2 separate regions of the Homo sapiens genome follow, and region 2 is linked to region 1. The links come from fine-mapping of genetic effects on gene expression. Tissue or cell type: cerebellum. Region 1 holds a variant in brackets; the other region holds the start of a gene. All regions are shown on one strand. Distances are from middle to middle.

What was found. PIP is the estimated chance that this variant, and not a neighbour inherited with it, causes the effect.
Region 2: it holds the start of MRPL23-AS1, and the variant in region 1 is fine-mapped to the expression of MRPL23-AS1 in cerebellum (GTEx, PIP above 0.99).

The regions. Positions count from the first base shown.
Region 1 is chr11:2,449,968-2,452,575 of GRCh38, forward strand. The region is part of intron 1 of KCNQ1 (potassium voltage-gated channel subfamily Q member 1); the gene reads left to right. Among named protein-coding and RNA genes, the nearest start is that of KCNQ1, 6.3 kb to the left of the region's middle. The variant C/G (reference allele first, on the strand shown) is at 1,235.
Region 2 is chr11:1,988,562-1,991,169 of GRCh38, forward strand. MRPL23-AS1 (MRPL23 antisense RNA 1) reads right to left here and starts at 1,359. Exons shown (of 4, transcript NR_024471.1): 1 at 1,265-1,359. LINC01219 (long intergenic non-protein coding RNA 1219) reads left to right here and starts at 2,535. Exons shown (of 3, transcript NR_126400.1): 1 at 2,535-2,608. It also overlaps a transcript of MRPL23 not described here. RefSeq lists enhancers at 1-2,608, 1-2,608.

The DNA.
Region 1 (2,608 bases):
CATGCCTTCCAGCGATGGGAATGCCACCGGTCCCTGTAGCCAAGGTGCAGATGCACACGTCCTGGTCCTGAGCCCCTGCTCGGCCCTAGGCAGGGCCCCCAGTTCCCTGCATTCCACCCGCCTTGTCTGGGAGGTGGACGAGCCCTCCGTAGCCCTGACATTCCAAACTGGCTTTTGGCCCCTGCGATATCTTGCTGTGATTCAAGACTCTGTCCACGGGCAAGAACAACAAGGCTGGGACAATCTCATCTCAGGCATCTGTGGGAGGAGACAGCTCCCAAGGGCGGTGATGCCAGGAGAACATTCCAGGCCCAGGAAGAGCTGAGAGACAGCAGATGCCCAAGACGAGTTGCTGGTGTGTGGCCAGTGCTGGGAGAGCATGGTGTCGGCCCGGGGAGATGCCGCAGAGAAGCTTCCAGAAGCCCAACATCTGCTGCTGGAGGGGAGAATGAGGCAATGAATATCACCATCCTGGGCCACTTTGACCCAGACCCCAAGGATTTGGTTACAGAGGGGAGGGCGGCAGCGTCTGGCTTCACTCTCGGGAGGTGCCTTGGGGCTGGCCAGTATGGGATTGCTGTCACTGTGGGTCACTCCAGCCCCGGATGCTCCTACACCATGCTCTGCTTGCATCTGGGGTCCCTGCGGGCACGTCGGTGAGACCGTCCTGGCCTCCACACCCCTTCCTGGTGGGTAGCTGTCTCTCTCCAGCAGCTCCTCCAACCACCATGAGAAACCCCAGACCTCACAGATGCAAAATTATCGTGGTTGACAAAGGGAGGCGGCTGGTGTCTCTGGTACTGGCTGGGTGACCACAGGGATGCCGCGTGACCCTAGTCCAGGGGGCCGCTTTTACACGAGGCATCTGACCATGTGATAGGGTGTGGCTTCTGCTGCCTGGCCCAGCCCTCTTCTGGGAGCCCCACGTGGGTGGGTGCTGGCTGGGGAGGGGCTTCTCTCTGGGGAGCAGGCCCTGGCTGGAGGTGGGGAAGATCCATGATGGGACCCAGGTGTCTTCCCACTTCTCGACCATCTCCTGGGAAGTTCTAATGTTTGGTTCAGGGTGTGGGGTCCATCTGAGCAGGCATGGTGCTTCCAGAAGGATCCAGGTTAAGGGTGGTGGGTCCAAGGGGGTGCCTGAGCCCTTCTGCAGAAACACCGTTCCCCGTAGAGCAGCAGTCCCCAACCTTTTTAGTACCAGAGACCTGTTTTATGGAAGAAAGATTTTTCCACC[C/G]GGGCAGTGGTGATCTTGGGATGAAACTGTTCCATCTCAGATCATCAGGTATTAGATTCTCATAAGAAGCGTGCAACCTAGATCCCTTGTGTGCGCAGTTCACAATAGGATTTGTGCTCCTGTGAGAATCTAATGCCACCGCTGATCCAACAGGAGGTAGAGCTCAGGTGGCCGTGCACATTCACCTGACGCTCACTCACTGCTGTGCGGCCTGCTCCCTAACAGGCCACGGACCCGGGGTTGGAGAACCCTGTCTTAGAGGATTGAGGCTCGGGGCCATGGGATCGGCACTGTCATTGCCCTTGGAGGGTTCTGAGCACTGGAAGGACCTGGCTGTGGTCCCAGGCACTGGGTGGATGGACCAGCAGAAAGGCTCCCAGGAGGGTCGTGGCTCCCTCATCGGCACCGGACTCTCAGGATGAGCCGCCTGGAGTCTGTTGGCATCTGCCTGGCCGCCTCTGGCAGGAACTTCTCCTGATGGAAGAGCCGGGCTGGGGAGCTGACTCCAGGACAGGCCCCTGCCCGCTCTGGGACCTGGGGCCTGGGCTCTGCTCCCCATTTCGCTCCTCCACTCACAGATGAGGACATTTGGGTCGCCTTACAGATGAGACAACTAGGCCTGGCCACTTTGCTCATGCCACACCCAGAAAGCCCTCAGGACACCCAGAAGCCCTTAGGATGCCCAGAAGCCCTTAGGATGCTGTGGTCTCAAGTGAGGTGGTGCACTATTCCTGGCCTCAGGCCCAGTTTGTATCCATGGGCACCCCCACTCCCACCTAGCACTTGCCACCAGGAAGCACCCTGAGGACTGTCCCCTTTGAGAGTTGGCTCTCAAAGCCTTGGTCTGTGCCTGCGTCCTGGCAGCGGGTGAGCTACGGCTGCCCTCACCCAGAGAGTGCAGGTTCCCTGGGGGCGGGGGCTCTTAGCTTTCCCTCCATATCTGCTAAGGTGCACACCTTTCTCTGCTGCCTTCCAAAATCATACTCTGGGGCGCACTGAAAGGGTGCTCTGAGTAGCTCTCCCCGGCTCCTGGCTGAACTTGCTCCAGGCAGAGATTTGAAGAGATTCAGAAAGCAGGAACCACAGGCAGAGCAGCTGGACAGGGACCCCCACCCCTGTACTCCCTTCGGCCCTGGAATGCTCCTCTGCATGGAGACAGCCCAGCTGCACTGGGACCCCTCACCCCACCCTGGGGCCAGGGGCTGTGTCCTCGACTTCCACGCAGAGCAGCCCGGGCAGCTTAGAGGAGGGAGCAGAAGGAGCTCTGACTGAGAGGGGTAGACCCCTCCCAGAGGCATCCCCACCCTGCCCCAAAGAGGGGAGCAGCTGGAGACGGGGCGGGAACCTCCTCTGGCTATATCTAAGCAGCCCCGG
Region 2 (2,608 bases), 460 kb before region 1:
AGGACAGCTGGGGATGGGGGAGAGGGGCACAGGCCAGAAAGGCTGGGGCTGCGGGGGCTAGCTAAGAGGCGAGGGTTCTGGGTGGCAGCAGCAGGCAGGGACCTTCCCGGCGGCCCCAGTGGCTCCCTCCCTCCCAGAACCCTTTCTCCTTCCTTGGGCCTAGAGCTTCCTCCACGTACTTTTCCCCGCCCCCGCCTTTCCCCTCTCTCTCACCCCGCTCAAACATGCTGTGACCTTTCCAGGGCCCCTGGACATCACTCACTGGGTGACAGAGGTTGACAGGCATGGAGCTAAGGAATGGGAGGCAGGGCGGGGGCGGCCAAGCCTCTCCAGCCGCTCCCTTCCCGCTTGCCCCACAGACGGGCCTCCCTGGATGGTCCTGGGTCAGCACACACGCTCCCAGGCGCTTCCTTCCCCAGGAGACAGTCCCCAGCCCCTGGCGGCCCAGATCCTCCTGCTCAGGCCGACGCATCCCACCTGGGCCCCAGAAACCTCTTTGGAAAGGGACAGTCACCTCAGAGTGGCAAGCACTTAAAAGAGACCCCCAACAGGCCGGTGTGTCGTGGTGGCAGGCAGGGTGTGTCTGGAGAGAAGGGGGACGTGTCCCCAGCTGGGCCTGGGGGCGGCTCCGTGGGAAAGTCCCACCTGGTCCCAGCCCCGGGTCTCCAGCCTTCAGACTCCTTGGGGGTCTCTGTGGCCTGGCAGAGGTCGGTGGCCCCTCAGTGGAGGTGAGGCCTCTCCTGGGTCACCACCGCACACCGGCCTGCTGGGAAGCTGGGGTTCTGGGCCACAGCCGGCCCTGGACGTGGAGGGGGGCATCAGGCCAGACCCCCCAGGGGCTCACAGGGCTCTGGGAGGCCCTGGCAACCCCAGGGTGCCCCCAAGCCCTCAGAAGGGTTGTCCCTACTTGGAGGGGACCACACAGCCAGGTGGGCAGGAACAGGCACCACGGCGGCCCTTCCCTGTCCACCCTCTCACCAGTGGCCCGCAGTGCAGTCCAGGAAGCACCGGACAGAGCACGGGGCAGGGAGGGGAGGCCCGTACTGGCTTCACAGAGGTCTGGGAGGGGCTAGCCCCTGTGCAGACAGACCCCTGAAGCCTAGAGCCGCCGGCCCAGCTGAGGTCCTTCCCAGGGGCCATTCTGGGACCCCTGACCCCATGCACCTGTGTCACAGGGCTATGAGCGCCCCCAGCCCCAGGACCTCCACGTTTCTCTCTAGAGGGAAGAGGAGGAGGACGGCAGGCCTGCTGGCCCCACACTTACTGGTTGGGGACGCTCAGAGGGGGCAGCCGCCATGCCGGGAAGTTAGGGTGGGCAGAGGAGCAGCGGTGCCAGGACCCCCAGGCCATGCTGCCACCCCGGACCCTGAACAGTGGGCTAGTGTGTGGGCCTGGGGAGTGAGGGCCCAGGCCGGGCTGGGTCTCGCTCCATAAACCCTGGCTGGCCGGAGCTGCAGACATCACTGTTGACACAGGGGTGATGTCACTGCCGGCCAATGGGGAGACCCTCGGGGGCCCTACGTGTGCCTCTCTGTGCTCCCAGGGCCCCCGCCACGCACGCCGCCTGCTCTGAATGCTGCCTGCATAAACCGGTTTTTCTAAATGTCTTTGGGGCCCTGCTTGCCCCCTGGGCCCCATCTCCTGCTCATCCCACCCCACCCTTGGGCCCAGCCTATGAGCCAAGCGGGAGTGGGGAGTGGCGGAGAGCCCTGGGCCTGCCCGCTCCCACAGGCATGTGGGCCCCAGAGCCCTGACCCCTGCACCTTCACCTCGCCAGCCTCTCTCCCATCTGCCACGACCCCAGCTGCCACCATGGCTCCCCACAGTCACCCCTGGGCCGTCTCTTCCTCCTGTCGGGAGAATGTTCCTCCTGGGAGAGCCTGAGGCCCCCTCTCTGCTCCTTGCTCCCCCGTCTGTCTCCCCTGCCCTGCCTTGCAGCCCTGCCCTGGGTCCATATGCTCAGAGCTGGCTACATATCCTGTGGCTGCCCATGACACATAGCTCCCCCAGGCAGGGCCGGACCCCGGGCACCTCTTTGCCTCCAGGGCCGGCCCCACTCTGTTGGAGGTCAGCCGGTTCCGAGGCCTCCAAGCCGCCTTTCTACTTCTCGATTCCAGGGCCTGGTCTCCACTCCCTCTGGGCTTTGGGGTGCATGCTGCAGTGCAGCCTCCCCGCGCCCCGGCCTCCATGCACCCTGCTCGTGCTGCCTCAGAGGCTTGGCATCTCCCCCATCTTCCAGCCAGGCAGCCAGTTTTCTGCAACGTGGGGCCCACGGTCAGCGTCCCCCACAGCCCTGCCAGCCCTTCTCCCCGGGGGTCCGCCCTGCACCCCCTTCCCAGGAGCTTGCTCTGCACCCACTGCTGGGCCTCCTGGCCTAGGGGCTTGGCACGTGCCTGTGAGCAGAGGCGCTGGGCAGGAGGAGGAGGAGGAGCCTGCAGTGCCTGGCGCCCGTGTGTGTTTACTGGTCCGGCCCCAGCCCCGCGCCGCTCCCCGCGGACCCGGCCTCCCGCCTGTGTCCAGCCAGGTGTTGGGTGATGGAGCGGGGCTCCCTAAGGACAAGGAGCACAGTGTCTGCTTTCTTTGCAAGCACAGTGCTGACAAGGAACAG